Linked DNA regions of Homo sapiens: all the other regions are linked to region 3. The links come from fine-mapping of genetic effects on gene expression. A gene starts in region 3. Each other region holds a variant in brackets. All regions are shown on one strand. Distances are from middle to middle. Region 1 overlaps PLPP4 (phospholipid phosphatase 4). Region 2 overlaps WDR11 (WD repeat domain 11). Region 3 holds the start of WDR11-DT (WDR11 divergent transcript).

The links. PIP is the estimated chance that this variant, and not a neighbour inherited with it, causes the effect.
Region 1: its variant is fine-mapped to the expression of WDR11-DT in cerebellum (GTEx, PIP 0.91).
Region 2: its variant is fine-mapped to the expression of WDR11-DT in caudate (GTEx, PIP above 0.99). The same link has a PIP of 0.9 or more in hippocampus, nucleus accumbens and prefrontal cortex.

The regions. Positions count from the first base shown.
Region 1 is chr10:120,571,962-120,576,961 of GRCh38, reverse strand. It overlaps PLPP4 (phospholipid phosphatase 4), which reads right to left. Exons shown (of 7, transcript NM_001030059.3): 6 at 1,661-1,831. Among named protein-coding and RNA genes, the nearest start is that of LINC01561, 23 kb to the left of the region's middle. RefSeq lists an enhancer at 1,336-1,835. The variant G/A (reference allele first, on the strand shown) is at 1,913.
Region 2 is chr10:120,883,478-120,894,674 of GRCh38, reverse strand. WDR11 (WD repeat domain 11) reads right to left here. Exons shown (of 29, transcript NM_018117.12): 14 at 10,787-10,895; 15 at 8,737-8,861; 16 at 7,839-7,986; 17 at 5,491-5,597; 18 at 4,666-4,780; 19 at 3,788-3,959. Among named protein-coding and RNA genes, the nearest start is that of WDR11, 38 kb to the right of the region's middle. The variant A/CAAAACAAAAA (reference allele first, on the strand shown) is at 5,437.
Region 3 is chr10:120,844,550-120,855,746 of GRCh38, reverse strand. It overlaps WDR11-DT (WDR11 divergent transcript), which reads left to right and starts at 4,568. Exons shown (of 3, transcript NR_033850.1): 1 at 4,568-5,053. WDR11 (WD repeat domain 11) reads right to left here and starts at 4,385. Exons shown (of 29, transcript NM_018117.12): 1 at 4,241-4,385; 2 at 3,112-3,223. The coding sequence starts at 4,326. RefSeq lists enhancers at 3,901-3,960, 3,655-4,198, 3,971-4,440, 4,601-4,720, 4,199-4,743.

The sequences.
Region 1 (5,000 bases), 280 kb after region 3:
TCCATAAAAGGCCATTTGGCCCGTAATATTCTTCATGGGGAAATGCCCTAACTCACATAGGTGGGAAACAATTCTGCGGGAACATATTCCCAGTTCCAATGGGGGGCTGTGCCTCTGTTTTTGTTGGCCCAGTGACTCTGTCCATCCTTCCATCTCATGATGCGGCTTCTTATCATCCAGAATTTCATCCAAGTCATTGATAAAAACAGAACAAGGGCAGGTTCAGACCTGTGACCCTCTTCTGACCTCCCCCATCAGGAGGGCCTCAGACCTTAGTAGCACTTGATGCTTGCTGCATCCACCTGTCCAAACCATGTCAGCATCTCTTTCCCTATACCCTTCATCCTCCAGCCCAAAGCTCCTGCTGGGGTCACAGGACACCCAGAGCATGAGCTCCAGGAGGATACGGGGTAGGGATGAGACCAGGAAGGAACAGGAGAAGCTGTGTAGTGCTAGAAGGAGCACAAGGTCTCCAGAGAAGATGAGGAAGGAGGGGCTCTCAGCTAGGAGTTCCCCTCAACCCTGTCCCCATCCATTGCCTCATTACCACTGCAACAAACCCCCGGAAAAGGTAGGAAGAGGGCAGTCCTGCAAGGCAGCTGGCTGCAAAGACAGAGAGAGGAAGGAGGTGAACAATGCCCAGCAACAGTCGGAAAACAAGAAAGGGAGAGGAGGTTTGGGTCACAGACCTATCATGGAAGCCCATTCATTCAAAGAAGCTGGATTCAGGCACACTTTCTTTCCTTTGTTTGGTTAAAATTGACACATATGGTGGAGCTCTTTACCAGTGTTTCTTAGACTTCATCAGCAATGACAGGCTTGCTTATTATCCAGGAAGATTCTAGGCCACTGCTCCAGATGCACCCCTAGAGAGTCCAATTTCTAGCTCAGGGCAGCTTGATCAAGGTGATCCAAGGATTGCCCTTGGGAAACCCTTCCCTAGACCCCATGCTTCCTGGAGGCCACACCTCCCATGGACATCACCTCCGTCTCAGCTCTCTGTGTGCTCTGGCAGGTGGTGGTTGTCTTTCAGACAGACTGTGAGCTGCAGTTTGTCTGCAGAAGGACATGGCATGGTTTAGTTATATTTCAGGAACAAGCCCCTCCCTTGTTTTGTGTTATTTTGATTTTTAACAAATACCCCAGGACTGATATATGTATATATATAGGCAAACCTCACCCCAGGCTTGCAGCTGCTGCTTGGAGCATTACTGGAATGAATCCCTGGCTAGATATACCTTTCGGAAGAGCATCCATGGTGACAAATACGTCCTTGTAGGCTGGATTTGATAAGCAAAGGAAGCCAAAAACCACTTGGCACCAACTCTGAGGACTGAGGCAAGTGATCCAGCAGGAAAATCACATTTGGGTCTCAGGCCAAGGGTGACACTAAACCAAAGGGCCTGACATTCTGGCAGGACTCAAGCAGTCTCCTGGAGCATGAAGGAGGAAGAAGAGCTCCAATTCTTTCCCCAGGAAGGCCAGACCTCACTTGAACCAGCATATTTGCTTCAAAATTTTATCCGCTCTGTCATTTCAGCCTCCTCTGGTTTTGGACAATGGGCACTTAGCTCCCCACAATTGGTGCATTTCTACACCCATCCCTGGAGGAGAGGGGCAACCACAGTGAGGACTAGTCAGGCCCTGGGCAGGGACTCACCTTGCCAGTGATGCTTGTAGTCGCACATGCGGGACAGGGCAATCATCATGGCGCAGTACAAGGGCAGGATGGCAGCACAGAGCCGCCAGCTCTTTCCCCGCCCACTCTCGGTGAAGCAGTGCAGCTTGCCCGCCAAGTAGAACGTCGTGAAGCCAAGGCCCGAAAAGGCAACTGCCAAACAGAAACAGCAGGTGTTACTCTAGCAGGTGGTGAGTGGCAGGGACTCAGTGCGTGCTGGGCATTCCGTCTGCC[G/A]TCTTGCACACCCCCAAGGCCAAGGCCATGTTGGCACCAGGCACTATCTAGGCAATCTGTGCTCCTGCTAGCACCATGCTGCTATGAAACTTTCAACCATAAGAATAATCTTCCAGGGTTATATGTGATCAAAACCTATTTTATTTCATCCATTCATTCAATAGTTACTTCAGGAGTCTCCACTCTGTGCTAGACAGGCACTGCACTAGATGTGGGGAATAAAAAGATGCATCAGATACTATCTCTGGAGTCAAGAGGCTCATGGTCTAGTTGAAGGACATACCATGCTAAGAGATAATTTTAATATAATGTGATACATTCTATAAGAAACAAGTACATACAGAGCAAAGGACTGTGAGAACTGCTTAGATCTGAAGGGCATGGGAAAGTAAAGGGGCTAGGATCAGCCCCAGGTTTTTGGCTTGGGAGACTGAGTGTACAATGGTGGCATTCAGTAAGATGGGACCAGCAAATGCTACAAAAGAGTGAGTTTGATGGAGAAGTCAGCGATGACAAATACCTTGTTTTCTGTCCGAAATAATGGTTATTGTTTTTTCTGAATTGCAAAGACAACTCATGGCTGTGCTAAATCCATTGTCGAAAGTGTAGAGGTCTGAGTGTAGCATGTATAAGCCCCAAGCTTTACATCCAAGCAGGTATAAAACATAGTTGGGAGCTCAGTGAGATTTAAGTTGGGAAGCGCTTACAACAATGGTCCTCAACCCTGGCTATACAGAGTCACCTCTAATACCTGGGAAGCTTTAAAAAATACTGATACCCAGGTTCCATTGCCAGCCATTCTGTTTGTAGTGGTCTGGAGGGAGCTGAGAGAGAGAGAGAGAGAGAGAGAGAGAGAGAGAGAGAGAGAGAGAGAGAGAGAGTGTGTGTGTGTGTGTGTGTGTGTGTGTGTGTGTGTGTGTACTCCCCAGATGATTCTAATGGTGGCCACAACTAAGCTTAGAGGCTTTTATTGAAGGCAGGTGTTACAGCTCCCCATCCCTCTGGACACCAGTCTAATCCAAACTTTCTTCTTGATTAGAAAGTACTTCTGAGGGGATGGAGCTCCTAGGTAACCAGCCCACACAGTGACTTGGCAAAACGAGTATTATAAATACTCTCAATGCCAATACACCAGCAACTTTAAGAGACTGCCCAAAGCCCTGAGCCACGGTCTGGGCATCATGCAGGCATTTGTGACAAATGCAGATCCTCAGGTCCAACCCACACCTGCTGAGTTAGAATCTGTATTTCACAACATCCACCAGCGATCTGTGCACACACTGCACTTGGAGAAGCCTTGGCCTAAAATACATTCATTGTCTTTATAAGAGACCTTGGAAAGTCCATCTTAAGAAAATAATATAAAATGTAAGGGAAATCTAGAAGATTTTCTGCTCAAAGTTATTGATAAATATTGAAAAACTGAAAATGATCAGTACAGAAGAATAGATAACCAAGCTGTGACATTTCCTTGTAATGGACTATGATGCAACCATGAAAACCACATGATTATGTAACAATATAGACAATACTTAGGATGCATGCTAAGTGAAACAAGTAGGACCCTAAACTGTAAGTTCAAGATAATCATTACTATAGTACCAAACAGTGAACAACCTGCAGCTTTTCCAAATTATCTCTGATAAGAATGTGCCTTCTTAAAAGCGATCTCGGTTACAAACACAAGATTATACCAAAGTAGAACTTTTTTCAGCAACCAAATTAAACAAAGTTACAGTGGTTTAAAAAAAAATTTTAATGGAATATTAAACCAGGTTTATCGTAGGTATAAAGATGCAGCAAAAGAAAGTAAATCTAAATGTGAGTGGTGTGTGCATTGAAACACTTCTGCGTAATGATTAGCACCCTCCCCCTCCTCACAGTGTGTAAAATGCTTGTTTTCTTTGAGAAGAGAGTAGCAAGTTCTATGGCTAGAGTCAGAAAACATGTCTTGGACAGCCTTCCTGGTTTTTTGTTGTTGTTTTTTCTCCTCCCCGTTGAACTTGAACCTGAGCCTTGATGATTTAGAGTCCTAGGATTTCAGAGTTAGGTCTGATGAATAACATCAGAGCCGTGCCAATAGATATTAAGTATTCTGCTTAAAGTAAAAATATGTGAGAAGAAACTGCATGGCCCAGCCCTGCTCTAGATACTGTGGTGGGAGGTTATTAAGTGGTTTACATGATGTTCCAAAGTGGCCCTATCTGGCCACCAACGTAGCAAGCACAACGACTTCTTAAATTCTATCCTCATCCCCTTTGCTCTGTTCCTTCTATTCATTTACATTCTTCCTTGAGGTATTCCAGTGGGAGAGGAGGCTGGAGAGTTGGATCCCATTGGTATTGATCCCATCCTGAGCTCCTTCAGGAGGAATAATGGACTTTATTCAAATCAGGTGGCTTTGCAAGTTTATCCACCTAATTACACTAAATGCAGGGAAACACAAAAAAAACTGCCCTGGGGCTTTGTATGGTTTTGGATGAAAGTCTCCAAGATCTGAATCAGGGGAGAGGCAGCCTTGGGTGTTGCCAAACTGGCATCTCTTAGGGAAACAAACAAACAAACAAATCAATGAACATAGGGCAGCTGTTGAGCAGGAATTTTTATGTGTCCCCATAAAAAATGACTTGGAGACTTTAAGACATATAAGTCATCAGCCCAAGCAACCAATACTGCCTACAGCACCTCCGGGCACATCCAGGGCATGGAGAAGGGGAAGGGCTGTGGAAACCCTCCACTGTTGGGCAAATGGTTCGAGGTGAGATCCTCAGCATCCGCCTGATTTCTCTGTCTCAGGAACTTGTATTTGGCCAGCATTGGCACCCCAGGCTCTAACTCATTCTTTGAAGGGTAGGTAAAATGTATTCTCTCCCACACGGCGGGAGCCAGGACCACCACTGTGACCCCTCCAAAATGTTGAAGCCTCTGCCTCTTTGAAAAAGAGGATGAATTCCAAGTCATCTTTATAGGCAATGTGCAAGGGCCTAGATCCTGTGGGCACCCAGCAGCAGCCAGTCTTCCTGCCCACACGCTACTGGGCCTTTGAATATTTTTTTTAAACTTCACTGTGTGCCCTTACTTTCCTAAG
Region 2 (11,197 bases), 39 kb before region 3:
AAAATCAGTAAGCAAAGAGCCAAGAAGAAAATCAGTAGAAAAAAGTTATTCCTCCACCACTTGGAAATGGCAACATTAAGGTGAGCTGGAAGTCTGGGAAGGAAAGGACCATATTTTGTGATTTTGTTCAGTGTGATTCAATGAACGGTGAAAAAGAGAGCTAAGGAACACTACTGGCGTTTGGGGCAGGACAATTCTTCATTGCGCCAGATCGTTCCAGGTTGTTTAGCATCCCCAGACCTCCCCACATCGGCAAGTCATTGTGAGACATTTCTGAATGCCCCAAGATTACCGAAAATGACTGTGGAAAGCTGTGGCAGATGAAGAGGAAAGGTTTGTGCAGAAATCTGATTTCAGAAAGCTTCTTTCTATATATGCTTACTTAGGAAAAATGTGCTTAGCAGTGGCCTTTAACACTGGGGAGGGGAAAACTGGCTAGCCATATGTAGAAAGCTGAAACTGGATCCCTTCCTTACACCTTATACAAAAATTCATTCAAGATGGATTAAAGACTTACATGTTAGACCTAAAACCATAAAAACCCTAGAAGAAAACCTAGGCAATACCATTCAGGACATAGGCATGGGCAAGGACTTCATGTCTAAAACACCAAAAGCAATGGCAACAAAAGCCAAAATTGACAAATGGGATCTAATTAAACTAAAGAGCTTCTGCACAGCAAAAGAAACTACCATCAGAGTGAACAGGCAACCTACAGAATGGGAGAAAAATTTTGCAACCTACTCATCTGACGAAGGGCTAATATCCAGAATCTACAATGAACTCAAACAAATTTACAAGAAAAAAACAAACAACCCCATCAAAAAGTGGGCGAAGGATATGAACAGACACTTCTCAAAAGAAGACATTTATGCAGCCAAAAAACACATGAAAAAATGCTCATCATCACTGGCCATCAGAGAAATGCAACTCAAAACCACAGTGAGATACCATCTCACACCAGTTAGAATGGCAATCATTAAAAAGTCAGGAAACAACAGGTGCTGGAGAGGATGTGGAGAAATAGGAACACTTTTACACTGTTGGTGGGACTGTAAACTAGTTCAACCATTGTGGAAGTCAGTGTGGCGATTCCTCAGGGATCTAGAACTAGAAATACCATTTGACCCAGCCATCCCATTACTGGGTATATACCCAAAGGATTATAAATCATGCTACTATAAAGACACATGCACATGTATGTTTATTACGGCACTATTCACAATAGCAAAGACTTGGAACCAACCTAAATGTCCAACAATCATAGACTGGATTAAGAAAATGTGGCACATATACACCATGGAATACTATGCAGCCATAAAGAATGATGAGTTCATGTCATTTGTAGGGACATGGATGAAGCTGGAAATCATCATTCTCAGCAAACTATCAAAAGGACAAAAAACCAAACACCGCATGTTCTCACTCACAGATGGGAATTGAACAATGAGAACACATGGACACAGGAAGGGGAACATCACACACCTGGGACTGTTGTGGGGTGGAGGGAGGGGGGAGGGATAGCATTAGGAGATATACCTAATGCTAAATGATGAGTTAATGGGTGCAGCACACCAACATGGCACATGTATACATATGTAACAAACCTGCACGTTGTGCACATGTACCCTAAAACTTAAAGTATAATAATAATAAAATTAAAAAAAAAAAACACTGGGGAGGAAATTAGGTTGAACAGTCCCTGATATCAAGTCAATACTATTTAAAGGGTGTGGAAACTGCATGATACCAGAATGCTATTAAACAGTCTCATATTCTTGCATTCCTTTTAGATGCTGCTAAAAAGACTATTAAGATTTATTTTGATGGCTCTTTGTGTCCCTGACATATTAGGCAGCCGATAAGAAAGGTTCTCCAACTCAAAAACAGGAATTCTAATCTTCTAATTTGTCTGACTGCCCCCTCTTTATTGGAGGAAGAAGTGGCCTATCTAAGCTGCTCTAAGAAAATGTACAGATGTGAATCAATATTTTACGTTCTCTACTTGTTTTCAAGGAGAATTGAAGAAAACATAGGAAACACCAATGTTAGGACCTATTTTATTTTTATCCCATGTCAGTAAGCCCCAAATATACTTCTAATTCCTCAGAATAGAAATATACTACCTCAAACTTTTTTTCCTCAAGACCAAATCGGCCATGAATCTGGAGGTGAACACACAGATGTCTTTTTCCTCACTCCACATTTACACTACCATAGTTTTCATTCTTTAACATTTATTAAGGGTTGTTCTGAATTTGAAGTTCAATTTGTGGAATGAATACACAATTGCATGACCTTTCCCAATTGCTATTTAGTTTTCTCTTTCTGGCTGAGGCTGTAACATTAGAGATTGAAAAGAATATAAAAAAAAATCAGAAAAATTTTAAAAGAAACATGTGATCTAAAATCTGGCCACAGGCCAGATGTTCAAGTATGGTATTGAACATGGGTTAATACAATGGACTCCATTTCTGTAGTCAGTTTAATTTAAGAACAAGCTACACCTTGACTTTGGAGCTTTTTAGATTCAAATTTTATATTAAAAGTGAAGGAAAAGCTCTTCAAACATTTAGATAGCAGTTCCACACTTCTTTATCTAGAATTAGTAACCAATTTTTTCAAAAACCACCCTTGAAGTTCCTTCAATGTCCTCAATACCTTTAGGTTTAAAATGAATACCAATGCTTGCCCTTTCCTAGGAGGCCATCCTGGTGCTTCCCCAGAGCTGGCAAACGACACAAGGACAGACATGGGAATGTAGGTCTTGAATTCTGGCTTCACCTGATGGCAGTCAGTTACATAGTAAGAAGTGGTGGTGCCCAAATGCAGTGGGCAGGGGTGGGCAGTGACAAAAACCAAAGCATACCTAACTAAGTTAAAGGCAGCCCTGCTAACATTAGCAGCAACTCAGTAGTGCCTCAAGCATGAACACAAAGTGAAAAACCAGGTTTTTAAAACCTTACTGTGTCTGAAGTGCCAAATATTGACTCTACAAAGGTTCAGAAAAGTCTCATGAAATTTTCTACATATCAGCCTAGAGTGTGCACCAAAGTTTTGCTGGGAGAATACTCAGGCAAGAAGTTCCCTCCTCCACTCCAAGTAGGATCAAGTATCTTCCAAGGATGAACACTGTATTGCATCAGCCAAAAGCTGCCTTTTAAACTGATAAATGGATGCATTCACAATTGTCCCATTCTTTTTTTTTTTAGAAGTCATATATGGAGTATATTCTACTAAAATGCTTTTTATTCTGGTAAAAAGCAATGTCAAAACAACCATACAAAACAGAGCAAGATACTGCAATCTGCTAATTTGCTTGACTGGTCATTTTACTAGTCACAGATTGGCATCAAAATTCATAATACTCAGAACACTTTCTAAAGTGACTTTTCAATGATATATGGTTGCAAAAGACATAAGGCCATTATTAAAAAGCCAGCAGCCTTATCACTAGATTTATGTCCTCTGATGAGTTTGCCTAAATTCTGAGTAAGCCATTTTTATAAACATAAACATCTTTTATCTTGTTAACAAACCAAAGAAAAGAGTCAAAAGGGGCACTTAAAAAACCTGAATTGAGAATGATTGACATCTATAGTTACAAAGATTGCAGCATCTCAGCAGTAAAAACACTCAAGCTTCAAGTTAATATATTTTCTTAAACTCAGATTCTAAGAAAATAAGACTGAAATGAAACAGAAGCAGCAGCTCTCTCCCCAAAATACAAGAGCTTGTGGCAAAGTAAAGACAGGTTTCAAAGCCCCCTATCATTAGGATTCCATACCGGTTAACTCTTGTTCATCCATTCTAAAGCACGCAGACTTCATAGACATCTCTAGGACTCTGATGCACCCATCATCTGAGGCCAAGATCACTTTATCTGACGTACACCAGTCCACATCCAATATACGAAAGGTCACATTTCTGCCACTTCTTAAACTGCTCACCATCTGAACCTTCAAGAGTGAATTTGGGCATCACTTCCAGACAGAAAAGGAAGATCTTTATTATTCTAGATTAAATGGTCAAGGAAGACAGTCTGTGGCAAAGGCCCAGTTCAAGTTTAGAACTGAACAGCCTCTGGCAATCTATCTTCCACAAATAGGCAGCATTTTAAAGGTCTCAGAGACAGTGATAATATTAAAAAATAAATAAATCGGCTGGGCGCGGTGGCTGACGCCTATAATCCCAGGACTTTAGGAGGCTGAGGCGGGCAGATCACCTCAGGTCAGGAGTTTGAGACCAGCCTGCCCAACATGGCGAAACCCTGTCTCTACTAAAAATACAAAACATTAGCCGGGCGTGGTGGCACATGCCTATAATCCCAGCTACTAGGGAGGCTGAGGCAGGAGAGTCACTTGAACCCAGGAGGTGGAGGCTGCAATAAGTCGAGATCGCGCCATTGCACTCCAGCCTGGGCGACAAGAGTGAAACTCCATATCAAAATAAAAAATAAAAATAAATAAATAAATAAATAAATAAATCTTGAGTTGTTACCTTTAGAACACAAATACTGTAAAGTAAAGAAAATAATTTGTTATGGGAAACTTGACGAACTCATTAAGTACTTTTCATTTCTAAATCAGAAAGAAGTTTTTTAACAAAGCACAGTTCCTATGGCTAACAATTTATTTACGTTTTATCCTCATGGAGAGGGCCTACCTCTTTAGTATCCCACACTTCAGCTCCATCATTGTACATTGCTATTAATTTTTGATTTCCTTTACCAGGAGCAAAACGAATCTTCCTCACCCAACTTCGGTGTGTGGGTATTCCTCTGAAGACAAAGAAACAAAAACATCAATACAATGTAGAGTGAGATCTGGTCACCAGAAGCTATGTCTAACATCTCTCACTATTTCCATTTCTAACAGGTCTGATGATGGGAGAACCCTTTACTTGCTGGGACTGGGGGCCACATCTGACAGAAAGGGCCTGCCCTTTAAGGTCAGCTAAGACTTCTGCAGGGGCCACTTGCAGATAACTATCTCCTAAGAATGCTTGGCTCAAGGCCCATCCTCCCAAGTTTAGGTGAAGGGACCCAAGGGTCCAAGCTACACCTCCACGAGTTTACTGATCCTTCTTGCCAAGTCACAAGCCTCTAATGGAACCATATCAAGATGTCATTTTTTGGCCGGGTGTGCTGGCTCCTGCCTGTAATCCCAGCACTTTGGGAGGCCGAGGTGGGCGGATCACGAGGTCAGGAGATCGAGACCATCCTGGCTAACATGGTGAAATCCCGTCTCTACTAAAAAAATACAAAAAAATTAGCCGGGCGTGGTGGTGGGTGCCTGTAGTCCCAGCTACTCGGGTGGCTGAGGCAGGAGAATGGCATGAACCCGGGAGTCAGAGCTTGCAGTGAGCCGAGATTGCACCACTGCACTCCAGCCTGGGCGACAGAGCAAGACACCATCTCAACAAAACAAAACAAAA[A/CAAAACAAAAA]GATTTCATTTCTTTTTTTTAATGAAATAACAAGATTTCATTCTTGGCTTATACCTGGATACTCTGCCTTTCAAGTCCCAGAAATTTAAATTTCCATCCATATCTCCAAGCACTAATGTATCACCTTTCCAAGCGATGCAGGTAATACTACCCATACTTCCCTAGAAAACAACAGCAACAAACAAATATAAATTTCACTATGCTGTATAAGACATTATAATAAATATTTTAATAAAACTTAATTTAAAGGGCTGTGCTTTAGTATGCTTTTAGTCATCAAATCCTAAAACAGACTTTAGACACTAACAAAGAGCTACATTGCCTATCAATTTCAACTATGAAGAAATAGGAGATTTCAACTTCATAGACATTAAGTAGTTACTGGAACTAGATTTAAAGAGAGGGGATGTCTTTTGAGGAACAAATACCTCAAAAAAAAAAGGGGGAAATTAAAGTAAGAAAAACAGAGAAGTAAAGGGAAGGTTTTCCAGAGAGCCAACTCAAACTTATCTCTCACTGCAAAAGGATAACTAAATCCATTCCAAGGGAAACTTAAAGCTCTTTTATAACTAATTGTGCCGTGATTTTTCTATTGAAAAAAGGATCCAGAGCTTCACTGACACGTTTTGGAACATTGTGGAATCATGAAGGTGAAGAGATGCTGTTTACTAAAGGCATATGCAGTTTAAATTCACAGAAAGCTTTGCTCAGAAGTTACATATAGAAGCACAACATAAGAATGAAATGCTGCTGTAGTCAATCTAACTTGGAGGAAGAAAGGAACTTGCAGTTCTAATAGATGCTCAGAGGTGGTATCATGGAGGGCTCAGCAGCCTGGGCTCTGCAGTCACACTGCCTGGGCTTGAATCCCAGCTTGAAACTGGTATGTGATTTGAGGCATGTTTACTTAACCTTTCTGTCTTGGATTTATTGTCCATAAAGTAGGGTAAGTTCATGAAACTTGAGTTGTTGCTAGTATTAATAAATTTATAAAGGCAAAGGCCTTAAAGCAATGCCTGCCATGCAGTAAATAGTCAATACATGTTAGCTATTAAATAATATTACTGCTCAATTACTTCTCTATTTATTAAAAGAAATTTTATTTTTGCATTTATTGTACAACATAAAAATTCAAATGGTATCCATGGTAAAAAGTAAGAAAACTCTAGTGGTTTGAATAATTGACCATTAGTGGACTAGCACACACACTGAATACCGTAAAAACTCTGGTAATAGTCAAGAAACAAAACAAAAACTGGATTTAAAAATCAATATTATAATAAAGTCCATTAATAAAAAAAAATATTAAAGAAATGAAATTCTGTATATAATATGAAGCAACATTTTAAGATATCTACTTTCCTAGCCATAAAATAGAATGTTTAATTAAGAAGTTGCCTTTGAAGAGACTTCTGAAACCAGGTCATAATAGACTCTGCAACTTCCTTCTTGCTTTATCAGATCACTTACTCTAGGGGAGGCCAGTTGTCATGTCGTGAGGACACTCAAGCAGCCTTATGGAAAGATCGACATGAAGAACTAAGGTCCCTCGTCAACAGCCAGCATTAATGTGCAATAGCCTGTGAGGCAGCCAACTTGGAAATAGATCCTTCTGTCCCATTACACTTCAAAAGACTGTAGCCACAGCCAACATCTAGATTGTAACTTTATGAGACCCCAAAGCCACCTATAAAATTATGGGGGTTGGCATTCTACTAGAGCATTCCATTTTTAGATAGCAATTTAAAATAAATATACCTATTTTAAAAAATCCCCTCATGCCTTCATTTAACCATTATAATAGCCTGCATTAATTAACATAAACATTTTCATGATCCATCTATTAAAAACTATCTATGAGATGCATGCTGACACAAATGATTAATGGCAAAACTTTAGTTACAGATTCCACAAGGCCATAAGAATATATGTAAGTTAGTAAATGTTAATAATACTATTACACTTACAACCTGATTACTATTATCCAAAAATAATACTAGATTGTAAGTCAAATCCTTCAGGGTAATGCCTGAAATGGAAAGAAGACAGATACTGAAGTCAGACAGGCCTGAGTTTAAAACACTGCTCTGCCATATGAGTAAGCTGGATAACTTTGGGAAAGTTACTTATTCTCCCACAGTTTTGTTATGGGTAAAATGGAGATAACTCCTCATGGATTATTACAGGGATAAAAATGAGTAGCACACAGTAAACATTTAATCAAAATAGTTACAGCGTTATTCTCTAGCAGTATGGAACAAGTTTAATCGATAATATCTCCTTAAATAAAGTTTATTTACATTAGGCTTTTCTGAAGTTTCCAACTTAACTATGCCTTCACTGGATATGGAACCAACAAAACAAAATCTTCTTGATGAAGATTTAATCAAGGTTGTACTCACATCTGGTGGAATCCGAGCACTGTCTTTTACTGAGTTTCCTTCAACAGTGAGATGATACACTTGGCCATCAATATCGGTAAATACAAAATGTTCCCGGGCAGAGATGTTCTGACTAAGTTCAGATTTACTTTCTGCCTCCTGCAGCAAGCTTTGGGATAGTGAAACATATGATAAAGATGTTTTTTTTTCCCCTAGAGTGATACTCATAATTAATTAACTTGCCCAAAGTACAGACGCATTAAGAGGAGGTCCAAAACTATTTTTTTAAAAGTCTGAAACTAATATTTGCCCAGCTAATTATGGGTAAACATGAATCACTCCTTAACAGCCACAACATCAGAGGAAGTTTACCCTGCACAGAGAGAAATGGTGATCTAAACTTAACACAAGAAAAATAAAATTCATAGAGATTTTGGCTATAGAACTGTGCTCAACAGAAGGGAGGCTGTACAGTGACCCAACATTATCTCTGAAGCCTTTTATCTGTAAGATTGGTATGGATGGGGATGATACACAAATTTAGGATTCCCAACACATTTTCTTTGGTGTGTATAAATGATAATATGATCTATCTGTATGTCTATGCTATGTTCATTTGAATTTCAGAAGCTGAAGTGTATGGAGTAGAAGGGCACTCGGAATGAGCACATTTACTACTAGATGCTGATGGGTGAATATTACTGCATATGTTATTAGTTATAACAAACAGTATAGTACAATACTAAAAATGATAAAATTATCTTTTTAGTAATCTGGGTATGTACTGAAAGATGAAACTAAGTATGTTCAAAAGCAGAGTCCAACTTGCTACCATAGACACCTTCCGATGATACTTGTCAACTTCCCAGACATGATGCTAATGGCACAAATGACAGTGTCAAGAAACACTGTACTGTACCTGATCACAGATGATTCAACAATACTCAGCTCTGTGTCTGAGACTACGGTCTGGCGGGCCATGGCCTCTCGAGTTGCAAGTTGCTTCTTTCTCAGGCTCTTCAAGTTGTGAGATGGTGACCACTCCTGTAAAGCAAATGCAGACAAACCTAGAAGTGCTAGGTTTCCTTCTGTCAAAGAATCGTCCAGAAGAGCTGGGCACACACACCACTGCCCAGTATCATTTATTATTACTACACATGAATCCACATTTGTTCTTTAGATTTTACCTACTTAGAGAAAGGCTAAATGAATGCATTTTAATTGGAGCTTTTATGGCAAACTTCCAAAAGGTCTGACCTTTTGATGTTTTTATAAAATACTTACAAAATGAAAATAATGAATTCAATGATAGTATTGCCTATTCCTCGTCTCCTCCCCCATCTCTTATGTGCACACGATAAGACAATCACAGTTCTCGAACCAGGGTCCTTTATCATCCATAGATTCCTCCAAAATCACTTGTTTTATTTATATATTCTTTTATATTCCACCTATTGTAAAGCCTTTTAGTCCAATATCCTCGCATATGTATAAGTTCTTAACATGTAGTTATTATCTAATTTACCTAAATAGTATTGTGTTTATATGTGTGTGTGTGTGTGTGTGTGTGTATATATATATATATACTTCATCCTGTTTCTTACTCTTTCCACTGTATTTAAGTCCTCTTCCTCCTGTTTCTGCATGCTACGTAATACTCCATGGGTGCATCAGCCAATTGTTAATCTGTCTCCTCTCTCAGTAAAAACACACAGATGGTCTCCAAACTCACATCATGACAAAACACACCAGTCAATATCCTTGCAAAAGTTCATTTACGACCAAGAGCTCAGCGGACACAGAAGATGTCTGTGTTTGCCCAAGTGCTGCCAGCGTGCTTTACAGAATGGCTGCATTGGTCTACATTCCTACCAGCAATGCACAAGGATTCCCATACCCTATGTTCCACCCGTACTTAACACTATATGGCTGTCCAGTTTTTGTTAGTCTAAACGGTAGATCCATATCATGGTTTGAACATCTCTGAAAACTGATGAGTTTGAACATTCCTTTATATGGCTTGTTGGCCTTTTAGGTTTCTCTGCCTCTCATTAGCTCTTCACAGACTTTGTTCATTTTCTCACTAGGGTTCCCGCTTTTTTTCACTGTTGACTTGCAGGAGTTTCTAGTTAAATTTAGACACTGGAAAATTTGTTTTCCCAAAATGTCTTCTGTATTTAACTTTGACATCTTCATCAAACAAAAAGCATTAATCTTGATTAATTAAATGCATTGTTTCTTTTTTTTTTTTGCCTTTTGGTTTGAGCTTCTGATGTCTCCTCCTGCCTCTAGGTCACAGCAATATTTTGTATTTTGTTATATTCAATTTTATAGCTTTACATTTTTACATTTAGGTCTTTAGTCCTGTGACACTCACTTCTCTATACGGTATTAAGTAGAGATCAAGTATTTTTCTCCATAAAGTGAGACAGTTTTCCCAACACCGTCTACTACACAGTCTGTCCATCCTCTTTGATTTGTGCTACTTTACTGTATATTAAGTCCCCAAATATTCATGGGTCTGTTCCTGAGCTCTTTATTAGGTTGACTCACTTTCTATTCTTGTGCCAATACAATACTGATTTTATTTCCATGGTTTTGTAAGATGTACTAATATCAGGTAGGAAGGGCCAACCCCACCCACACCTCCCACATTTACTCCTCTTTATTCAAGGATGACTTAGCTATTTAGGACCTTTATTCTTTCATAAACATTTTTGAATATGTTTACCATATTCCTCAAAATATCCAAATGAAACTTGAATTGGAATTGCACTAATATGATATTAGGTTGATTTATCCAAGAAAATAAGAATTATCTCCATTTATTTAGATCATCTTCTCTGAACACACATTTTTAACCAAAAAAATGACATTGGCAGTAATGATTTTGATTCAAGCTTAAGCAAAACATTCACCACATACATATATACCTAAATAAGCTATTAAATTCTTAAATTGTAACTTACCAAAGCAGTTATTGTAGGGAAGTTTTTGGACATCTCTCTAAGAAGGGTACAAGTCCTAACATCCCATAGCTCCAGGGGTTTATCTCTGAATACGACTGCCAAATACTGCCTAAAATAAACAAAATTACTAAATAAGCCCCTTTTTGCAAAAATTTCACCATGAATTAGAGCAAATAAAAAGTTCAGTAAATTGAAAAACTCAGCTGACGCATTCTAAATATAGACAATTTAAACTACCATTTAGCACCATGATTAACAGTCATAAGAAGGTAAAGCTCTAAGTGACCTGTAAGAGAACATACAGTCTCACACAATTAGGCAAGGAGTCCAACTTGGAAGAAAGAGTGGCATAGATTCAAACCCTGATGCCACAACTTATGTTAACCCTCCTGAGGCTCAACTTCTCACACA
Region 3 (11,197 bases):
GATCTACTAAGTGAAGTTAGCTAGATTACAGGATATGATCAATAAACAAAAATTAATAGTATTTTTCCCTATTTCACATCATATATAAAAATTAACTCAAAATGGATTAAAAGCTAAAGCTCTAAAATTCTAAGAAAAAAACAAAGGTATATATCTTCTTGATATTGGAGAAAGCAATGGTTTCTTGGATATGGCACAAAAAGTACAAGCAACAACAATACAAAATAATAAATTGGACTACATCAAAATGAAAAAGTTTTGTTCTTCAAAAGACACCACCAAGAAAGTAAAAAGACAACCCACAAATTGAGAGAAAATATTTGCAAATCATGTATCAATCCAAACATATGACACAAAAAAGTCTAAAAATAAACAATTCATAAATTATGCGCTTTTCTGAATAGCATGATGAAATCTCCCACTGTCCTGTTCCATCCTGCCTTAATCATAAATCATCCCTTTGTCCAGAACATCCATGCTGTATACACCACCTGCCCTCAGTAGCCATACTGATTATCAGATCAACTGTTGTGATATCTCAGTGCTATGTTCAAGTAACCCTTATTTTACTTTATAATGCCCCCAAAGTGCAAGAGTAGTAATGCTGATGTATTGTTATAATTGTTCTCCTTTATTATTATTAGTTATTGTTGTTAATCTCTTATTATGCCTAATTTATAAACTTGATCATAGGTAAGTATGTATGAGACAAAACAGTATATACAGGGTTTGGTTTATAAACTTTATCATAAGTAAGTATGTATGAGAAAAAGCACAATATATATAGGGTTCAGTACTATCCAGGGTTTCAGGCTTCCACTGGGGTCTTGGAACATTTCCCTTCTGGATAAGGGAGGACTACTGTATACAAAGAAATCTTACGACTCAATTATAAAAAGATAAATAATACAATTTTAAAATGGGCAAAGGACCTGCATAGACATTTCTCCAAAGAAGATATACAAATGGCCAATAAGCACATGAAAAGATACTCCACACCTTTAGCCATCAGGGAAATGCAAACCAAAGCCACAATGAGAATCAATTCATACCCATTAGGATGGTTATAATCAAAAGAACAGAGAACAGCAAGCGTTGGTGAGGATTTGGACAAATTAGACTCCTCATACACTACTAATGAGAATGTTAATTTGGAAAACAGTCCAGCAGTTCCTCAAAAAGTTAAACAGAGTTACCATATGAGTCAGTAATTCCACCCCTAGAAACATACTCAAGGGAAATGAAAACACAGGTTCACACAAAACTTGCACATGAATGTGCAAAGCAGCATTATTCGTAACAGGCAAAAAGTACAAAATATCCAAATGTCCATCAATAAAATAAATGTGATACATCCTTACAGTGGAATATTATTCATCAGTAACAGAGTATTGATATATGCTACAACGCAGATGAACCATGAAAACATTATCCTAAGTGAAAGAAGTCATGCACAAAAGACCACAAATTATATGATTCAATTTATATAAAATCCCCAGAATGGGCCAGTCTACAGACACAGAAAGTAGGTCAGTGGTTGCCAAAGGATGAGGGAAATGGGGGAAATGGAATATGACTGCTAGTGGATATAGGGTTTCTTTTTGAGGTAAAAAAGTTCATTGTAATTGTGGCTGCATTAACTGTGGATATACTAAAAGCCACAGAATTGTGCATTTTAAGTCAGTACATTTTATGGTATGAGTATCTCAATAAAGCTATTATTTAAAAAAGAAAAAGACTCCAAATCTCTATCTCTAATCCTGACCTATCTCCTAAAGCCCGGATCACTATAATGCAATATATTACAGGCATCTCAGATTTTGCATGTTGAAAACTTAAAAATTCACTGACTTCACAGATGCTTACCTCTGATAACTGGAAACACTGTCATTCAATTACACCAAAAGAAACCTTGGAGTCACTCTATTCTCTTACTCTCCTTTATACTGATCACTATAAAGGCTATCAGGTTTACCTCTTTGCTGCTCTTAAACATGACTTCTCCATGCCCCAGCTTTATTTTAGGCCCTTAGAATTTCCCACCAAAATTACTGCAGAAATCTCCTAAATGATCTTACTGCCTCCAGTCTTGCATTTCTTCAGCAGATCCTCCACTGCTGCCAGAGTTTTTCTAAGACGCGAATATGGTCACATCAATCTCCTACTCAAAAATCCAAATTCCTGCTGGGCGCGGTGACTCACACCTGTAATCCCAGCACTTTGGGAGGCCAAGGCGGGTGGATCACGAGGTCAGGAGCTCGAGACCATCCTGGCTAACATGGTGAAACCCGGTCTCTACTAAAAATACAAAAAATTAGCTGGGCATGGTGGTGGGTGCCTGTAGTCCCAGCTACTCAGGAGGCTGAGGCAGGAGAATGGCGTGAACCCAGGATGTGGAGCTTACAGTGAGCCGAGATCATGCCACTGCACTCCAGCCTGGGCGACAGAGTGAGATTCTGTCTAAAAAAAAAAAAAATCCAAACTCCTTCGTAATCTTACAAAACTTCAGGACAGACAGCTGAATCTCTCTGGCTGCCTCTTATTTCATCACTCCTACAAGTGTCCCATCTTTAGCCATCTTTATGGCACGCTACTTACTTCTGTGTATATTCTTGCTTTTCCCTGCAATGCTCCTTGTCAATTTTTTACTTGGCTAACTACTGTCTACTAGTCTTGAAACTGTAGACTTCTGTGACTCTCCTCACAACCAGGCAATATGCAGCTCCTCTGTTTTCTCACAGCGTGTTACGCAAGTCTCACTTATCACACTATCACGCTGTGAGTCTTCCTTATAAGATGGAGAATTATCTGAGGGCTTTCATCTCCATATCCATAGCATATGGTAAGTGCTCAAAACTAAGGAATGACTGAGTGGTCTTGTAAATGGTAGAACTTTCATCTGCCTTAAAATGATCTAACAACTAGCATTTAATAACTCACCCTGTATTGACATTAAGTCATATATATGAAAATTCTAGGCTACCCCAAATAGGTTGTTATATTTAAAAGCTATTCAACACTTACACGTAAGACTTAATGAGAGCTTAGTGATACACAGTATTAAACTTTAGACTAGACAACATGTTAGCGTCAAAGTGGGATTTTACTTACCTTTACAACATCAGCTTTATGCTTTTCTAAAACTTGAAGAGTTTGGGCAGTAATGGAATCAATCACTACCACAAGTGAATGACATCCATAAGCAATTAAACCTTGCCAGCCCCTAGCAAAACAGTAATGTTAAAGTTTAAGTACAGAACAAAGCAGGACGACTTCTTTCTTGCCAAGCCTAAATAAATGATAAGTCTAATTCATATGTACCACCATTAATAAAATCATTTAAACCCAAAGGCCAGTATTTATCATTATCCCACTTAAATAAAAGATCTGGCTAAGCTTAAAATGCTTGTTGAAATTCACTTTTCATTCGGATAAAAAAAGTTCTAAAAGATATGAAAATAGAGACCCGAGGACATAAAAAGGAACTTGTGCCCTCTGACTGTTCTTGTAGGCATACGTCTTTCGCTTATCCGATTTCTAATCCTTAGTATCCACAATGTGCCTGGGGATACTGCGACTAATCCTAGTCCTTCCAACTAAATAAAACGACAAACACTGCACAAGACGTTTCAGTCCTCCTAACAACATCCCACAGCCACAGAATTTTGCTTTACATTTGTCTAATGAGTAGTTTTCAGAGCTGCAGTAGTAATTTATAGTGAAAGGAGAGAGTAATAAAGACGACCTGTTGAAGGCAGGAATGTTCTACACAGGAGGAGCCCGAAAAGAGGTGAAAAGGACAGGTGAAAGAACAGGCGCCTAGCACAGGGTCTGGCACATTGTTGAAAGACAACAGGAATACAAGACAACGAAAAAGAAAAGACAGGATGGGAAAGAGAAAGTGCACAGGGAATTAATGGTGGAGAGAGAGAAGCCTGGAAGCTGGAGGAGAGGAAAAGAGAGAGGAATGGAACGGCAAAAGGGCGAGGTGCAGAGAAAACAGCAGAGAAATACGCGAGAAAGAGGGGAAATGTATTTGCATGGGGGAATTTCCCACACGGGGCTATTATCACTTTTGTAACAACAAAAATCCACCAACTGAAAGCAAGCTCATTGCGTGAGGGCGGCTCCCTGCCTTAGCGAGGCCAAACTAACCAGGGGGTGAAACCTCTTGTCCTTCCCCCTTCCCCCTCACACATTCCTGGCCGATCCTGGCGACCTGGAAGCTCGGCGTCCTCACCAGTCCACCGCCGCCTTGTTGTGGGCGTTGAGGGCCCCCGTGAGGGTGCGCGCCGACACCTTGAAGTTCACTGTGTAGGGCAACATCCCGGCGGCCAGCCCAGGACCTGGGCGCTGACCCGCAACCAGGAAGCGGCGGACACTGTGCTTCCGTTCCAAACAGAGTCCGGGTGGCCCCCTCGGCGCCGCTGTCAGGTTCCTCTAGATTCAAGTTCTACAGGCTCCGGGTTCCACCGCTCCCGGATTCCATCGCCCCCAGGTTCCGTTGCCTTCAGTTTCCTAGGATCCTAGGTTCCGCACTCTCCAGAGTTCCGCCGCTTAGGCGGTTGTGCTAATCTGCGTCAGCTGGGGCTGTATTTGGAAGAAGAGGCGCTGCCTCCAGTCAAGTCTGTTTTTTTCAGGTGGGGACTGTAGGCCTTTGTGCCCTGCTGGAAATCGTGAAAAGCAAGAGAGAAGAGTCCCAGTTATTCTTGCTGCCTTTGATAAGTGAATTTAGGGCAACTACTAGTGCCAGTAGGCATGGGGGATCTACCGATGAAGAAGACACAAAGTCTCCGCTCTCGTGGAGTTTACAGAGAATAATGAATGAGATTAATTAAGAAATGAATGAGATTAATTGAATGAAATTGCCAGACTGAATGAAGTGAATGGCCTGAATATAAACAATTTCCAAATACAGATAACACTGCATATCTGGTGTTTGCAATACTCCCTTCGCACTTGAGGAAGAAGCACTATGTCTGGGGCCAAGTGTGACCCTTTGTCTGTTGCTGGGTACCTTTCATTTCGCACTTTCTCCTCTGCTGCTCTCCAGGTCAGACCCAGTCCTTCCCTCCTTTGTGTTCAGTGTTGGGTTTATACGCTTTAACTATAGCACTTAATGCAATGATTTCTTTTCAGCAATGATATTTGCAGATGTGTGTTTCTCTCCCCAATACATTGTTAGTTTCATGCGCGTCCGTGTGAAGAGACCACCAAACAGGCTTTATGTGAGCAATAAAGCTGTTTATTTCACATGGGTGCAGGTGGGCTAAGTCCGAAAAGAGTCAGCGAAGGGAGATAGGGGTGGGGCTGTTTTATAGGATTTGGGAAGGTAATGGAAAATTAGTCAAAGGGGGTTGTTCTCTGGTGGGCAGGGGTGGATCTCACAAAGTACATTCTCAAGGGTGGGGAGAATTACAAAGAACCTTCTTAAGGGTGGGGGAGATTACAAAGTACATTGATCAGTTAGGGTGGGGCAGGAACAAATCACAGTGGTTGAATGTCATCAGTTAAGGCTGTTTGTACTTCTTTTGTGGATCTTCAGTTACTTTAGGCCATCTGGATGTATACATGCAAGTCACGGGATGCGATGGCCTGGCCTGGGCTCAGAGGCGTGACATTCCTGCCTTCTTATATTAATAAGACAAAACAAAATAGTGTTGAAGTGTTGAGGCGGCGAAAATTTTTGGGGGGTGGTATGGAGAGAGAATGGGTGATGTTTCTCAGGGCTGCTTCAAGTGGGATTAGGGGTGGCGTGGGAACCTACAGTGGGAGAGATTAAGCTGAAGGGAGGTCTTGTGGTAAGGGGTGATATTGTGGGGATGTAAGAAGAAACATTTGTCGTATAGAATGATTGGTGACGGCCTGGATACGGTTTTGGATGAATTGAGAAACTAAATGGAATAAGAGAAGGAGAAAAACAGGTATAAAAGGTCTAAGAATTGGGAGGACATAGGACATCTGATTAGAGAGTGCCTAAGGAGATTCAGCATAGTCCTGCCAGCAAAGATTATTTATTTACTTCAAGAGTTTAGAGTGGCAGTTTGGGGATAGCACCAGGAGATATCAGCTGTGATGGCTTGGAGAAACAGTGTAAACCGGCAGTGTAAACAAGAGCAGGGCATGTATGAGTAGTTGAGAATGGTGAATAGGAGTATGACTACAAAAGATAGGGATGACAAGTTTTTTGGGGCACAGTCTAAGTTGGTCTGGTGTCAAATGAGACTGGGGCCTAATAAAAAGGAGCGTCTATACAGGAGCTTAAATGGGATGTACCTTGTAGCATTCTGAGGACAGGCCTGAATTCTGAGAAGCGAAAGTGGTAAAAGTATTGTCCAGTCCTTTTTAAGTTGGTGGCTGAGCTTGGTGAGCTGTCTTTTTAAAAGACCTTTAGTCCGTTCTACTTTTCTTGAAGACGGAGGCCTGTAAGGGATATAAAGGTTTCACTGACACCTACTAAGAGCCTGAAAAACTGCTTGGCTGATTTGACTAATAAAGGCTGGTCTGTTATCAGACTGTATAGAGGTGGAAGGCTAAACTGAGGAATTATGTCTGACAGAAGGAAAGAAATGACTGTGGTGGCCTTCTCAGACGCTGTAGGAAAGGCCTTTACTTATTCAGTGGAAGTGTCTATTTGGACTAAGAGGTATTTTAGTTTCCTGACTCGGGCATGTTGAGTAAAGCTAATTTGCCAGTCCTGGGTGGGGGCAAATCCTCGAGCTTGATGTGTAGGGAAGGGAGGGGGCCTGAATAATCCTTGAGGAGTAGTAGAATAGCAGATGGAACACTGAGAAGTTATTTCCTTGAGGACAGATTTCCACGATGGAAAGGAAATGAGAGGTTCTGAGAGGCGGGCTAGTGGCTTGTACTATAGCATAGCCTGCCTTTGCTGGTATGTGGCGATTAGGCCTGGTGGAACTGCCATCAATAAATCAAGCGTGATCAGGGTGAGGAACAGTAAAGAAGGAAATATGGGGAAATGGGGTGAATATCAGGTAGATCAGAGAGATACAGTCATGGGGGTCAGGTGCGGTATCAGGAATAATGTGGGAGGCCAGATTGAAGTCCGGGCCAGGAACAATGGTAATTGTGGGACTTAAAGAGTGAGTACAGCTGAAGGAGCCGGGGAGCAGAAAGTATATGTGTCAGGTATGAGGAAGAAAATAGATTTTGGAAGTTATGAGAAATGTAGAGAGTGAGTTGAGCATAGTTTGTGATTTTTAGGGCCTCTAAAAGTATTAAAGCAGCGGCAGCCGCTGCACGCAGACATGAGGGCTAGGCTAAAACAGTAAGGTCAAGTTGTTTGGACAGAAAGGCTACAGGGTGCGGTCCTGGCTGTTGTGTAAGAATTCTGACCGCACTAACCATGCCTAGGAAGGAAAGGAGTTGTTGTTTTGTAAGGGATTGAGGTTTGGGAGATTAATCGGACACGATCAGCAGGGAAAGCACGTGTGTTTTTATGAGAATTATGCCGAGATAGGTAACAGATGAGGATGAAATTTGGGCTTGACTGAAGTAATGGGGGCTGTCTGTGAAGCCTTGTGGCAGTACAGCCCAGGTAATTTGCTGAGCCTAATGGGTGTCAGGGTCAGTCTAAGTGAAAGCAAAGAGAGGCTGGGATGACGGGTGCAAAGGAATAGTAAAGAAAGCATGTTTGAGATCTAGAACAGAATAACGGGTAGTAGAGGGAGGTATTGAGGATAGGAGAGTATATGGGTTTGGCACCATGGGGTGGATAGGCAAAACAATTTGGTTGATAAGGCGCAGATCCTGAACTAACCTGTAAGTCTTGTCTGGTTTTAGGACAGGTAAAATGGGGGAATGGTAAGGAGAGTTTATAGGCTTTGAAAGACCATGCTGTAGCAGGCGAGTGATAACAGGCTTTAATCCTTTTAAAGCGTGCTGTGCGATGGGATCTTGACATTGAGCGGGGTAAGGGTGATTAGGTTTTAATGAGATGGAAAGGGGTGCATGATCGGTCGCCAAGGAGGGAGTAGAGGTATCTTATACTTGTGGGTTAAGGTGGGGGGATATAAGAGGAGGACGCAAAGGAGGCTTTGGATTGGGAAGAAGGGCGGCAATGAGATGTAGCTGTAGTCCAGGAATAGTCAGGGAAGCAGATAATTTAGTTAAAGTGTCTCAGCCTAATAAGGGAACTGGGCAGGTGGGGATAACTAAAAAGGAGTGCTTAAAGGAGTATTGTCTAAGTTGGCACCAGAGTTGGGGAGTTTTAAGAGGTTTAGAAGCCTGGCTGTCAATACCCCCAACAGTTATGGAGGCAAGGGAAACAGGCCCTTGAATAGAAGGTAATGTGGAGTGGGTAGCCTCCATATTGATTAAGAAGGGGACGGACTTACCTTCCACTGTGAGAGTTACCCAAACCTCGGCGTCCGTGATGGTCTACGGGGCTTCCGAGGCGATCGGGCAGCATCAGTCTTCAGCCGCTAAGCCGAGAAGGAGTCAGTCAGAGAGCCTTGGGCCAGAGTTCCAGGGGCTCTGGGAGTGGCTGCCAGGTGAGTTGAACAGTCCAATTTCCAGTGGGGTCCCGCACAGATGGGACACGGCTTAGGAGGAATCCTGGGCTGCAGGCATTCCTTGGCCTGGTGGTCAGATTTCTGGCACTTGTAGCAAGCTCCTGGGGGAGGAGGTTCTGGAGGAATGCCTGGCCACTGCAGTTCAGGCGTTTGGAAGTTCTGTGTGCTGGAGATGCGGCTGGGGTTTGTCTCACAGTGGAGGCAAGGAATTGCAACTTTTTTCTATTATTGTACACCTTGAAGCCGAGGTTAATTAAATCCTGTTGTGGGGTTTGAGGGCCGGAATTTAATTTTTGGAGTTTTATTTAATGTCGGGAGCAGATTGGGTAATAAAATGTATATTGAGAATAAGATGGCCTTTTGACCTTTTAGGGTCTAGGGCTGTAAAGCGTCTCAGGGTTGCTGCTGAACGAGCCATGAACTGGGCTGGGTTTTTATATTTGATGAAAAAGCCTAAACGCTGTCTGATTTGGGATAAAGAAAAAGGAGCATTAACCTTGACTATGCCTTTAGCTCCAGCCACGTTTTTAAGAATAAATTGCTGGGCAGGTGGGGGAGGGCTAGTCACAGAATGAAACTGTAAGCCGGACCAGGTGTGAGGAGGGGAGGCGATAAAAAGATTACAGGGTGGAGGAGTGGAGGCTGAGGAAGAATTGGGACCTAGCTTGGGCTGGCGAGGAGGGGAGAGGTCAGATGGGTCTGTAGAAAAGGAGGATTAGAAAGACTCAGCGACGCTTGGGGTTGGGACTGAGGGGACAGGCTGGAGGGAAAGAAGGAAGATTTGGGACGAGTTGCACTGGGCACAGAGACTAGGAAGGGACTGATGTGTAAAAGAATGCCTGGACGTCAGGCACCTCAGACCATTTGCCCATTTTACGACAAGAATTATTTAGATCTTGTAGGATGGAAAAATTGAAAGTGCCATTTTCCGGCTATTTGGAACTACTGTCGAGTTTGTATTGGGGTCAAGCGGCATTGTAGAAGAAAATAAAGCATTTAGGTTTTAGGTCAGGTGTGAGTTGAAGAGGTTTTAAGTTTTTGAGAACACAGGCTAAGGGACAAGAAGGAGGAATGGAAGGTGGAAGCTTACCCATAGTGAAGGAGGCAAGCCCAGAAAAAAGAGTAGAGACACGGAGAAGGGGTGGGGAGTTCTTGCCCTCCAGAAAAGCAGAGAAGGGGTTGGGGCACAGAAATAAGAGGTCAGGGTGCGGAAATAAGGGATTGGGGCGCAGAGATAAGAGGTTGGGGTGCAGAAATAAGCAATTGGGGGGTTCTTGCCCCCTAGGAAAGCGGGACTTGCCGCTAAGGGTGAAGGAGAAGGGGTTGAGGGGTACTTGCCCCTGCCCCAGGAAAGCGGGACTTGCCGCTAAGGGTGAAGGACCAAGGCAGGCGTCCCTGCATTGTCTGACACCCTTGAAACGTGGGTATGTAATCAGAGAGGCGTCCCTGCAATGATTAAACACCAAGGGAAGGCTGCCTTCCCAGTCTGTGACTGGCGCCGGAGTTTTGGGTCCACGGATAAAACGTGTCTCTTTTGTCTCTATCAGAAAATGAATTGAAATTAAGAGAAGGGAGAGATTGAAGTGTAGCGCCAAGATTGAAAGGAGAAAGCGGTTGAGGGATAGTGAGGGAGGTTGGAGAAGAGAGTAAAAAGATGCTGCTTACTGGATTTGAAATTGGTGAGATGTTTCTTGGGCTGGTCGGTCTGAGGACCTGAGGTTGTAGGTGGATCTTTCTCACGGAGCAAAGAGCAGGAGGACGGGATTGATCTCCCAAGGGAGGTCCCCCGATCCGAGTCATGGCACCAAATTCCATGTGCGTCGGTGTGAAGAGACCACCAAACAGGCTTTGTGTGAGCAATAAAGCTGTTTATTTCACATGGGTGCAGGTGGGCTAAGTCCGAAAAGAGAGTCAGCGAAGGGAGATAGGGGTGGGGCCGTTTTATAGGATTTGGGAAGGTAATGGAAAATTACAGTCAAAGGGGGTTGTTCTCTGGTGGGTAGGGGTGGATCTCACAAAGTACATTCTCAAGGGTGGGGAGAATTACAAAGAACCTTCTTAAGGGTGGGGGAGACTACAAAGTACCTTCTTAAGGGTGGGGGAGATTACAAAGTACATTGATCAGTTAGAGTGGGGCAGGAACAAATCACAATGGTGGAATGTCATCAGTTAAGGCTGTTTTTACTTCTTTTGTGGATCTTCAGTTACTTTAGGCCATCTGGATGTATACGTGCAAGTCACAGGGGATGCGATGGCCTGGCCTGGGCTCAGAGGCCTGACAGTTAGCTCCTTGATCAACAAAAGGGACAACATATTGGTGATTTTTCATCACAGGTTTTTGTGTCTAGCTTACCATTCTTGTAAAACAGCTTTCTCAAAGGTCACCTCATATCCTCTTAGTTGTTCAAACCAATGATCATGTTTTGGCTTTTAGTTGATCATGTTTTGCTGCAGCTTCCCTCCCCTTCCCTTGTTGTCTTACCTTTCCTTACCCCACACCCTAACCTACTGATGCTTTGGGGGCCACCAGATGTGCCCAAAACCACACATCTAAATTTATCACTCTCTTATTAAAAATCTTTGATGCCTCCCATGAGAAGATTGCTAATTGACTCCCCAAATTCATTCTCTCCTTTTTTTCTTAGGGATAGAACTTGAGTTTA